Linked DNA regions of Homo sapiens. The protein of the gene in region 2 purifies or fractionates together with the protein of the main gene of each other region. This does not show direct contact. Each region holds a gene or a part of one and is shown on either strand. Other genes may lie near its edges. The genes, in order: EEPD1, NCSTN and ERLIN2.

Evidence for each region.
Region 1: the proteins of NCSTN (region 2) and EEPD1 purify together in Homo sapiens (affinity purification with mass spectrometry; 2 studies listed by BioGRID and IntAct, with this or other methods). This does not show direct contact.
Region 3: the proteins of NCSTN (region 2) and ERLIN2 purify together in Homo sapiens (affinity purification with mass spectrometry; 2 studies listed by BioGRID and IntAct, with this or other methods). This does not show direct contact.

The regions. Positions count from the first base shown.
Region 1 is NC_000007.14:36,151,485-36,155,233, reverse strand, and holds the start of EEPD1 (endonuclease/exonuclease/phosphatase family domain-containing protein 1), read right to left. Parts: upstream 1,981-3,749; 5' UTR 1,560-1,980; intron 1,102-1,559; 5' UTR 910-1,101; coding exon 32-909; intron 1-31.
Region 2 is NC_000001.11:160,353,237-160,356,985, forward strand, and holds part of NCSTN (nicastrin isoform 1 precursor), read left to right. Parts: coding exon 1-1; intron 2-86; coding exon of another isoform or gene 87-95; exon of another isoform or gene 96-858; intron 859-881; coding exon 882-1,054; intron 1,055-2,418; coding exon 2,419-2,521; intron 2,522-2,626; coding exon 2,627-2,722; intron 2,723-3,023; coding exon 3,024-3,111; intron 3,112-3,363; coding exon 3,364-3,518; intron 3,519-3,749. UniProt on the Homo sapiens protein: Essential subunit of the gamma-secretase complex, an endoprotease complex that catalyzes the intramembrane cleavage of integral membrane proteins such as Notch receptors and APP (amyloid-beta precursor protein).
Region 3 is NC_000008.11:37,739,618-37,743,366, reverse strand, and holds part of ERLIN2 (erlin-2), read right to left. Parts: intron 3,003-3,749; coding exon 2,921-3,002; intron 1,596-2,920; coding exon 1,549-1,595; intron 1-1,548. UniProt on the Homo sapiens protein: Component of the ERLIN1/ERLIN2 complex which mediates the endoplasmic reticulum-associated degradation (ERAD) of inositol 1,4,5-trisphosphate receptors (IP3Rs) such as ITPR1.

The DNA.
Region 1 (3,749 bases), on a different chromosome or scaffold from region 2:
ACCCAACACCCATGGTGGTTCCTGTCCTCACCTGTTTTCCAGGAGTGTCATGCACACCACCTCTCGCACCCCGGGGTTGTTGGCCTTCTCCACGGAACAGCCCTGCAAGTTCCAGGTGGCCAGCCTCAGCACAGGCCTCCCATCCCTTGTGCCTCCAAAGGCCTCCACGGACGGCCGAGTGGAGATAATCTGGGTGGGCCCCCCTGGCGGCAGGTCCAGGTCCTCACTCTGCAGGCTCAGGGAAGTGGGGCTCGGGTGAGGCTTGGCGGTGAAGGTCAGTCCCCCGTTCGTGTGGGTGGATGGGGGCCTGGACCTCTCAGCAAACACCTGGTGCCGGATCCTGTCCAGGAAGGCGGCATTGATACCATCCATCCTCACTAGGTCCTCAACGCTGCGAAAGGGCCCATGCTCACGGCGGAAGTCCACGATGCTGAGGGCCATTTTCTCCGAGAGGCCTCGCACGCTCATGAGCTGGGCCGGGGTGGCTGTGTTGATGTTAACACGTGGGGTGAGGGGCACAGCTGTGGCCAGGTGGTGAGGCTGCTGCTCCGCTAGCAGGTCCCGCCGCAGGGAACTGGGAGAGTGCTGCGCTGAGCTGCCCTTGCTGCTCACACAGATCTCAAACTTGACCTGCTCCAGCTTGGTGGCGCCTACACCACTGACCAATGCCAGGTCCTCCACCTTCTTGAAGCCACCGATATACTCTCGGTACTCCACGATGCTGCGTGCCACGGCACGCGTCACCCCAGGCAGGGTCATCAGCTCCTCCTCCGTGGCAGTGTTGATGTTGAGCCGCTCCTGATTCACTAGAATGTTGCTGAAGTTACAGGCTGCGCTGAACTTGCGGCTATGGGACAGGTCCGAGGGGTCCCTGGGGATGGAGCGGTGGCAGCCCAGGGTGCTCCCCATGGTCCGCCAGGATCAGGCTCCCGGGAAGGCCGCACCACTGCAGAAGAGCTCTCTGGCTAGGGAGGAAGCCCAGTAGGCCGTACAAGCACAGAAAAACGGAAGGTGCAGGATTCAGGGACTGAAGAGGTTACTATAGACAAACACCGAATCTTCCATGCCTGGCGTGTCCAAAATTACCTTTCACTTGGCCGCCTAGAAAATAAATCAATAAACATAGAAACCCATTGAATTAAGAAATTTGCATTAGCACCCCCTACCTAGTGCTAGAGTTAGTAACCAGGAGTCGGGGACTGGTGGCTGCCCGTGAACCCCTAAAAACGCAGGCACAATGAGGCTAGGCCCATGTGGATTCTCCTCTAGGGACGTCCGGGTTTTATCACACTGGAGTCCAAAAAGGCTACGAGCCGCTTCTCTTGGGAAGAGACCTATCCCCATCAGCCTCATGCCTCTCCTCCAGGCCTCTCTCAACTCTGACACTTGGGTCACCCACACTTGGGCTCGCGCAGACGGGGTGGCCACTCCACCTCCCCCACGCTCCGCATCTGACACAGCGCTACCTGCAACCTGGGAAGTCCGTGCTCCCCGGAGCGGGCACTGAGAAGGGGCTTATCGACCCCCCACCCGACCTGCCGCGGGTCCCCGCGCCCCACCTCTCGGCCGCTCTGCGGGGCGCCGGTTCCTCTTCCACCTGCGGCTCGGAAGCCTGAGCCCAGCCCGGGACAGCACGGGCCCCCTGCCTCCAGCCTAGGCGTCCGCGCGGGTGTGGGTCACTGGTCAGGCCCTGGAAGCCGACTACGCCGCTTCGGTCTGCGTGTCCCGGCTCTTTCTATGGGAGAAACTTAGCATCGCTCTCCCAGAGTGAATAGAAGCCGCAGGGCTGCTCGGAGGCGGCGGCAGCGGCGGCGAAACCCGCCGCCGAGGCTGCACCGGGGCTTGCGGCGGCGCCGCCGCAGTTGCGTTTACCCCGGCAAAAAGTCCTGCGCCCAACTCGGGCGGGGATCCGCCAGAGCCAGTCCAGACCCAGCACCAGCCGCACGGCTCCCGCTCGCAGTCGGTGTCAAAGCCAAAGTCCCGGCCGCGCCGCGCCGCGCCGCTCGCGCCTCCGCAGGCACCGCGGCCACGCCTCCTCCGCGCGGCAACTCCTCCCCGGGACTCCCGAGGGCACGTGGGGGAGGGGCCCTGGCGCGGGGCGAGGCCTGGCACCAGTGGGTGGAGAGAGGAACCCGAGAGCGCAAGGGCGGGCCTGGAGTGGGAGAGGCGGGGCCATGGAAGAGGGGGCGGCATCAAGGCTCAAGAGGGTGGAGAACGAACCAGAGAGCGCGAGGGGAGGCCCTGGCGTGCGAGAGGAGGAGCCATGGGTGTGGGGGCGTGGCCTGGCACAAATGGGTGGAGAGCAGAACCCTGGAGCGCGTGGGGCGGGCCTGGAGTGCGAGAGGCGGGGTCATAGAGTGTGGGAGCGGGGCCAGGGCGCGATGGGGTAGGAAAAGCGGGGGCGGGGCCATGAGCGCGGGGGTAGGCCCCGGGAGCGCAGAGGCGGGACTTAGGGGGCTTAAGGGGCGGAGCCGGCGCCGTGCCGGCGAGGGCGGGTCACAGGGAGGCTGTCCTAAGTCAGCTGCCCCCGGACCATGGTTGCCGCCCGGGGCCTAGGACTGGTTGTGCCTGGTAGAGGCTGTTTAGGATTGCCCGAGGCGAGATCTGCTCAGCTGCTTTTCGTCTGTCTTTGAGGTGTGGGGATGAAGGCCGGGGCAGTCCCTGAGAGTGCATCGCTGTAGGTCCAGGGTCTCACGGAATTTTGCAGAACGTTCCAGAGGAGACTGAATGGGATCGTCTTAATTTCTGTCCCCACTTTCGGCCTTTTCTTTTCTTCCACCAGTGTATTACCTTTGCTCCGCTCAGAGAGATGTCCTCTAATAACGCCAGCGACGCATTGTGCTCCTAGCAGAGGGCACGCACCACCCTCCTGTGTGTTCGCATAGGTCAAATACAGGTTTGCTCCTTTGCACATTTAGCGCTGTGAGTAAACAAGGATAAGTTTTTGTAATATTAAGTCTAATCATTACGAAGGAGGGAAATGGGGGCTGCTTCCCAAAACCCAGAAGAGTTTTTGCATCACACTGCTAAATGACAATTTGGTTAAAGATTAAAGAGCCCTCTGCATTATAGTGGATACCTAGAGCTAGAGTATTCGATTAAGCAAATCATGCGGTGATATCGTTGAATACTTTGACCCTGGACGTTTAGTGTTCTCTGAAGTTTCATCCCCAACCAATGTGACCAGTGCATCTGGTTTCAATTCCAAGGACTGGGTCAGCAAAAATAGTACCTCTCACAGGCGGAAGGTACTTTGGTTGTAAAATTAGCGGCAGCCCAAGTTTGGAAAATGCTACTGCCTTTCTGAGGCACATTCCCCTGCTATGTATATTGGTCAGAAAACCAAGTCAAACTAGCTTAGACCAAAAAAAAAAAAAAAAAGGTCGGGGGGAAATTTTTGGTTCCTTGTTGAAAAGTTAAGGTAAGGAATCTTACCTCAAGTCTGGTTGCATCCGACCCAAGTGATGATGGGGTCATTAGGACATGGCAGGACTGCCTCCATCTCTGGCTCCACGGTTCTCTTTATTGGCTTTATTTTTAGGCAAGCTATTTGCACTTGATCGCAAAAATGCCTTGCTACCTACCATCATCTCCCACCCAAACACTGGGCTACATTATGCCACGCACTGAAATCCTGGTGCGGTAAGGAAAAAACAGTTTAAGACAAGCAGGAAAACAGAGAAAACTCTTCGTTGAGCAGAATGCCTTGATGCGCAACGTGGCTGTGGAAGCACAGCCGTGGAGCGTGG
Region 2 (3,749 bases):
GGTAACCTGAGCATCTCCCCTCATTTCCTATTCCTACAGCTCAGAATCCAGACCCCAACCCCTGCCCTGTTTCCACCAACCCCCAGGGCCTGTGAGACAGGGTAAGAGACAGGATTGGATTGGGTGTTGGCCAAAGGATGAACACCACAGCTGTTGTTGCTGCTGGGAAGAATCAGGAACTCAGTGACATTCCATTGGTTCCCTGGACTGGGTAGTTCTCTGATCATTTGTTGCCTAGCAGACTACCACTGCCCATTAAGGATAGGTGAGTGACTAGCTCCCTTCTTGCCTTGCTGCCCCATGGATCCAATTGTCAAGGCTGCTCTACCCAAGTCCTGGCTGTGTCACACTCGCTGCCCAACTTGTCCTCCACTTTCCTCATTGCTTGTTCAAAACCTTCCCTTCCCTCTAGGTCCACCTTTAGGCCTGCTTTTTTCCAGGTGGTCCTCTTTCTGCAATTCCAGCCTTCAGCATCATCCCTGCTCTGGACTCCTGTAGCATTTAAAGAATTGGTTATCTGTTTGGCATTCAGCACGCAGTTTTCTATTATTATTTGCTCCCTTCAATTCTGCACAATAAATAATAAGTGAAGCATCCACTGAGGATAAAGCAGAGTCTTGAAGACAGTAGAATTTACTTATAAATATGAAAAAAAAGGTCTCTTCTTTATGCCCCAATTTTCTAACTCTAAAAAGAATGGTGGAAGCTACAGGAAATTCAGAGAGCCTTGGTCCCAAAAGGCTTGAGGGATAAAGGTCTACTAGAGATAGGGTAGCTCCCCAAGCAGGGAACTTGAAGTATAGAGCATTTCAGGCCTAAAAGAGACCTCCTGCTTCCCATCCCCCAGCCTCCCATCAGTTAATCTCCCTCGTACCCCCCAGGTGGAGGATCTCCTGGCCACATTGGAGAAGAGTGGTGCTGGTGTCCCTGCTGTCATCCTCAGGAGGCCAAATCAGTCCCAGCCTCTCCCACCATCTTCCCTGCAGCGATTTCTTCGAGCTCGAAACATCTCTGGCGTTGTTCTGGCTGACCACTCTGGTGCCTTCCATAACAAGTAAGAATCACTTGGCCCTGCACCCTCTTCATTCTTGAAGAGAGTCTATTCTGCAGTCTGGGAGGAAGGTCACTGCCCTCCGCTTTCCCACACTACCCCCTCCAGAACTTCAGGTCCATCTGTATTCTTTGCTCAGTGGCGTTTTCACATCTGAACTGAAACCCTTATTTGTTTGACTGGATATTCATCTTAGAAACTCATCCTCACCCTTAGCCCTTTACTGTCAACAATCCTTGGTTATGGTTCCACTGCTCCCTAGCTCTCCAGGGTCCTGAGTTCCTCAGGGTTGCCAGCAGAGGGCATCATCTCAAACACAAGCATGGGAAGGATGGTGGGGGCCCTTTGGCTAGAAGACAGAAAGCAGTCCTTCTCTGGAACTCACCCAGAGGTGCCAGAAACAGTATTCATACTCTGTGAAATGTACCATGTTCTTGCCATGTGGTAGATGGCCATGGTTCAGTGCGAGGGTAAAAGTGCCTCCTATAGCTGATGGGGCTCCAGAGATACAAAGGGTAACTCTGGGTTACCCTTTAACTGCTCCTAACTTGAGGCCTTGGATAACAGGGGACTTCTTACTCAGGCTGGATTGCCAAGCTTCCCGAGGGCCAAATGAGTTTCGTAGTGAAAATGCTTGAGCTCTATTTCTGACCCCAGCCAAGTAGCACCTTCTCATTCATTTAGGGGAGTGACCGTCCTAGCACTTAGGGTCAGCTGTCTTCTCTAAAGCTATCCTTGTACCACTTTGGGGCAAGTGAAGATTCATCATTTGAACACATTTTGGATTTGATTATGTAGCTGACTTGACTTTGTGTGGGACAGGGATTTACTGATGGTAAAGACTGTGGAGCTCAGCCTCTCTTTTAAGATCTATCTCCTTGGGGCTCCATAAGGATCATCATGGTGATTTTATCAGTGTATTCTTATATATCAGTGAGCAGACCTGATCCTAAGACCTGCTAATCACCTCCTGCTCCCAGCTACCCTAAATATAAATGTTCATTGGAACAGTTATACAACTGATCTCATGATACATGGCAGAGTTCTCTGAAAATCATCTTAGCCATCCCCCATATCTCCAGCCCAAATGATGTAGAAGAGTCTCTCCTTTGTTTAAAGATCTGAGCTCATTCAGCTTTTCTACCTTGTCTGTCAGGAAAGTCTTTAATTTTCACTAACCACCTCACCCTCACTCCTACCTCCCTGTTCTCCACACCTTCTGCAATATGGGATCCTGATTGTCTCTCACCCCTTTCTTCTGATGCTGAAAATGAGATACTGAGTCCCTGCATAAGGAGCATTTGAGGGAGGAAAGGGGCAGAGCCCTGGCTAAATGTAGCCAAGGCTCATGCCGGCTTTCCTGGCAGATATTACCAGAGTATTTACGACACTGCTGAGAACATTAATGTGAGCTATCCCGAATGGCTGAGCCCTGAAGAGGACCTGAACTTTGTAACAGACACTGCCAAGGTAGCACTGAGCCAGGCTGGGTGGGAGCCTGGGGCACACAGTGAAGATGCTAGCATTTGAGGATAGGAGAGGTGGGCCATTCAGCCCCCTCCTCACCTACCACAGGCCCTGGCAGATGTGGCCACGGTGCTGGGACGTGCTCTGTATGAGCTTGCAGGAGGAACCAACTTCAGCGACACAGTTCAGGCTGATCCCCAAACGGTAAGCAGATGGGCCCTAGCTCCTTCTTTCTATTTACACAGCAAGCTGTCCCTATCCTCCCTTGCCCTAGTGTCCCAAACCTTGGAATTCCACATGACTGTTGATGCCGGTGAGAATGCCTCATGCCCCAGAGAGCTCTTGGGTGGGCCTCATCTGCATCTTATGAGCCAGCTACTGTCTCCCAACTCCAGTCTATCTGGCCAGTCTGGTTCCTGCCCCATGACTGGGTCTCCACTGATAATTCTTTCCCTGGGCTCCCTTCAAGTCACAGGGTTTTCTCTCTTTACTGTTCCAATCCTAGGTTACCCGCCTGCTCTATGGGTTCCTGATTAAAGCCAACAACTCATGGTTCCAGTCTATCCTCAGGCAGGACCTAAGGTCCTACTTGGGTAAGCATCTGGTGTGGGAATGGGACCCTTAGCTGAGGAAAGGGATAGAGAAAAAGTCTTTTGGTTTAACCTTTATTATTTTTTTTCTTTTTCCTCTCTGTTTTTCTTACCCCCTGTTTTCCTTTCTTTCTTCTCATATTTGATGGATCCTTTTCCATTGCCCTTCTTTCTGGCTGCTGCCAATCTTGGGCTTTTCCTATTTCACCCACCATCCACCCACCAAATCTTCCCTTCCCTTTGGTCTGCACTCAGGTGACGGGCCTCTTCAACATTACATCGCTGTCTCCAGCCCCACCAACACCACTTATGTTGTACAGTATGCCTTGGCAAATTTGACTGGCACAGTGGTCAACCTCACCCGAGAGCAGTGCCAGGATCCAAGTAAAGTCCCAAGTGAAAACAAGGATGTGAGTGGTGGTGGGTGTTGGAAGTGCCCTGGGGCCCCTTTCCCTTGGGAAAGTTGGAGGTTCTTCTAGACCTAGTTAGACCCAGGGGATTGGGATGGAGAGGTGGAGAGATGCAGTCCTCAGCAATTGGGTGTTGAAAAGCCTGGGTGAAAATGGACCATCTGAAGGGTAAAGGGACAGCAGCCAGTTAGCTCAATTGGTTAGAGCATGGCACTGATAGAGGGTAGAGGG
Region 3 (3,749 bases), on a different chromosome or scaffold from region 2:
ACCAAAACTACCCCTGCTGTTACCCGGATCTTGGACTTTGGGCCTTCAGAATGGTGAGAAAATATCTATTATTTTAGTCCCTTGGTGTGTAGTCCTCTGTCATGGCAGCCTGAGTGGACTCATATAGTTTCTGTCGTATCTGTTATAGCTGTTAATTTTGAACCAGGTTCTAATCAATGCTCACCCTTGCTTCTGTTTATGTTTCTTGTAAGTCTCTGTCCAATCCAGCATCCCTCTAAATACAACCACTTTGTGAAGAGATCAGGCCTGCGATCTTGTGGGATGTTCCAATTCCGGATTTGTCAGAGTGTTTCTTTGTGGTATTCTTTGTCACTCTATCCCAGTTTAAACTGTCTTTGCTTTCCAGTGGGACCGCTGTAGCAGTGTTCTCTTCGGATCTCTTTGCCCTGAAGGTCTCCCCTACCTTTATGACATTCTCTTTAGTTATGCAAGTTATCTTCTTGTATCAGGTCATTTATCTGCTAAAAACCTTTGTGCATCCTCACTTCTTTTTTTGTTTTTAACGTTAAAATTTTATTTTATTTTCCATTGTTTAAATTCAGAGGTACATGTGCAGGATGTGCAGGTTTGTTACATAGGTAAACGTGTGCCATGGTGGTTTGCTGCTCAGATCATCCCATCACCCAAGTATTAAGCTCAGCATCTATTAGCTATTCTTCCTGATGCTCTCCCTCTCCCCACCCCCTATCCACTGACAGGCCCCAGTGTGTGTTGTTCCCCTCCATGTGTCCATGTGTTCTCATCATTCAGTTCCCACTTATAAGTGAGAACATGTGGTGTTTGGTTTTCTGTTCCTGCATTAGTTTGCTGAGGATAATGGCTTCCAGCTCCATCCATGTCCCGTGCAAAGGACATGATCTTGTTCCTTTTTATGGCTGCATAGTATTCCATAGTATATATGTATCACATTTTCTTTATCCTGTCTATCGTTGATGGGCATTTGGGTTGATTCCATGTCTTTGTTATTGTGACTAGTGATCCTCACTTCTTTTTTTTTTTTTTTTTAAAGACGGAGTCTCACTCTGTCGCCAGGCTGGAGTGCAATTGTGTGATCTTGGCTCACTGCAATCTCTGCCTCCCAGGTTCAAGTCATTCCCCTGCCTCAGCCTCCCGAGTAGCTGGGACTACATGCATGCACCACCACACCCAGCTAATTTTTGTATTTTAGTAGAGACGGGGTTTCACCATGTTGGCCAGGATGGTCTCGATATCCTGACCTCATGATCCACCTGCCTCAGCCTCCCAAAGTGCTGGGATTACAGGTGTGAGCCACCGCGCCCGGCCGATCCTCACTTCTAATAGAGTAAGTGCAAACTCCTTATCACATACAGCATTCTAGCCCCTCCTGAACCTTCTATGATTTCCTCTACTGCACTCCATCACCTGGTCAAATCAATATAGGGAGCTACGAGACAGGGAATTAACCAAGAAAGGGTGCCTCCCTTTTCACTGTCTCTTCCTGCAACCAGCCAGACAGCCTTTTCTCTGACTTATTTGGGCTTAAAAGCTTTATTCTGGGTACCTTACCTAGTCCCACAAGGTACATTCTTCACCTCATCTGTCTGGAGTGTGGTCTGGAAACAGAGGAAACATAAAGTGCTAGAAGATGGGCAGTGACAAAGTAACTTACTTTTCAGAATCCTAAATGCCTTTGTCCTGGAATAACTGTTTGGGTTGAGCATGGCCTTCATTAAACATGATTACCCCACCTAATCCTCCTTCCTCACAGGGTTGCTAAGCCAAGTAAAGGCCCGTGCCCCAGCCTCACTATAAGTGAACCACCACATCAACAAGCTGAGTAATAATGGTTTAGTGAAGATGACACTGGATTGGGCATCTTAAGACTTGTGCTTGCTTCTACCTCTTCTATTTATGTTAGGCACCGCTTTATGTTCGAAGGCCCCCAGTGGATGCTTGAAACCGGGGAGAGTACCAAACCCTATAACACATACCTATGATAAAGTTTAATTTATAAATTAGGTACAGTAAGTGATCAACAATAATAAAATAGAACAATTATAACAATATACTGTCATAAAAGTTATTTGAAGGTGGTCTCTCTCTCTCTCTCTCAAAATATCTTATTGTACTGTAGTCACCTGTTTTCAGACCATGGTTTATTGTGGGTAACTGAGCCTGTGGAAAGTGAAATAGTGGATAAGGGGGAGGGCTGTTGTACTAGTTTTGAAACAGCAGATTACCTATTTAACCTGTCTCAGACCCTAGCACATGCTCAGCCCATTCTCAGGATTACTACAAGACTCAAATGAGACAATGTACCTGAATGCAGTTTGAAAGCCACAAAGCCTGGTAAACAGCACATGAAACTTACAGGGAAAATGCCTAGCAGGTATCCCAAGACATTCTCCTGGGTCAGTGTAAAGTGTAAAATCTTGTTATTCTTCTTAGCTGGACATACTTCAGAGATGGCAAGTCCAACTTAGCCAGGCTTTAGATCTGCCACAACTAACCTCACTCCTATTTTAGATGTCACCTCCCCTCACTTAGTTTAACTCCTCCCCACTCACTGCAAAAATTATGTTCGTATTTCTGAATTCAAATAAGAATCAGCAAAATTACTATGTTTTCTTTCCATTTAACATGGTAGCCTGTGATTTAAAACATACACACATAAACCCTGACTTTTCTTTCCATATACTCAGAACAGGTTCTTCTCTGGCTTTATCTTGAAGGAATAATCCCCAGCCTCATTTTATATATATATAGTGTATGTGTGTATATATATATATATTATATATATATAATATGTATATATTATCCTTATATCATTCTCTAGAATGGCATTTTACTCATCCAATGGCTAAATAATTTCAAATCATGCACTAGTTAACAGCCCAAGTTTGCAGTCGTCCAGCCATACCACAGAGGCCAAGCATACCTGCACAGACTTATATGATGTGATGAAAGGGAGCATGAGATGGAAACCAGGGCCGCTGGTCGAAGTCAGCAGGGCACCGCCTCTGCAGAGGAGGGGGAAGAGAGAGGCAGCTTCAGTTTGGCAAGAAGGCTCTGTTAGATCAATATCATGAGGGTCAACTTTCCCTTCAGCCCTATAAACATATAATAGAGAGTGACATGTGCTGCAGCCATGGCTACAGATCCCTTTCTTCCTCTCAGCTAGATCCTAATATTCTAGGAAGCCTGATGGTAAAACATAAAACTATTGTTCATGCTTTTGCAAGGAGAAAAATAGGCACATAGGCTAAATGGAATAAAGACAGCAGAACCCACTAGTGCAGTCCCAGCGCTTTGCGGGGCTGAGGTGAGAGGATTGCATGAACTCAGGAGTTTGAGACCAACCTGTCTCAAATAGTGAGACCCTGTCTCTACAAAAAAAGAAAAGGAAAAAAATTAGCTGAGTGTGGTGGTTGTATGCCTATAGTCCCAGCTACTTGGGAGGCTGAGATGTAAGAATTGCTTGAGCCTGGGAGGTTGAGGATGTAGTGAGACATAATTGTGCCACTGCACTCCAGCTTGGGCAACAAAGTGAGACTCTGTCTAAAAAAAAAAAAGAAAAAGACAGCAGAATCCATGGGTATACTTAGATAAGAGAAAGTCTGGCCAGGCGCGGTGGCTCACGCCTGTGATCTTTGGGAGGCTGAGGTGAGTGGATTATTAGGTCAGGAGTTCAAGACCAGCCTGGCCAACATGGTGAAACCTCGTCTCTACTAAAAATACAAAAATTAGCCAGGCGTGGTGGCAGGCAC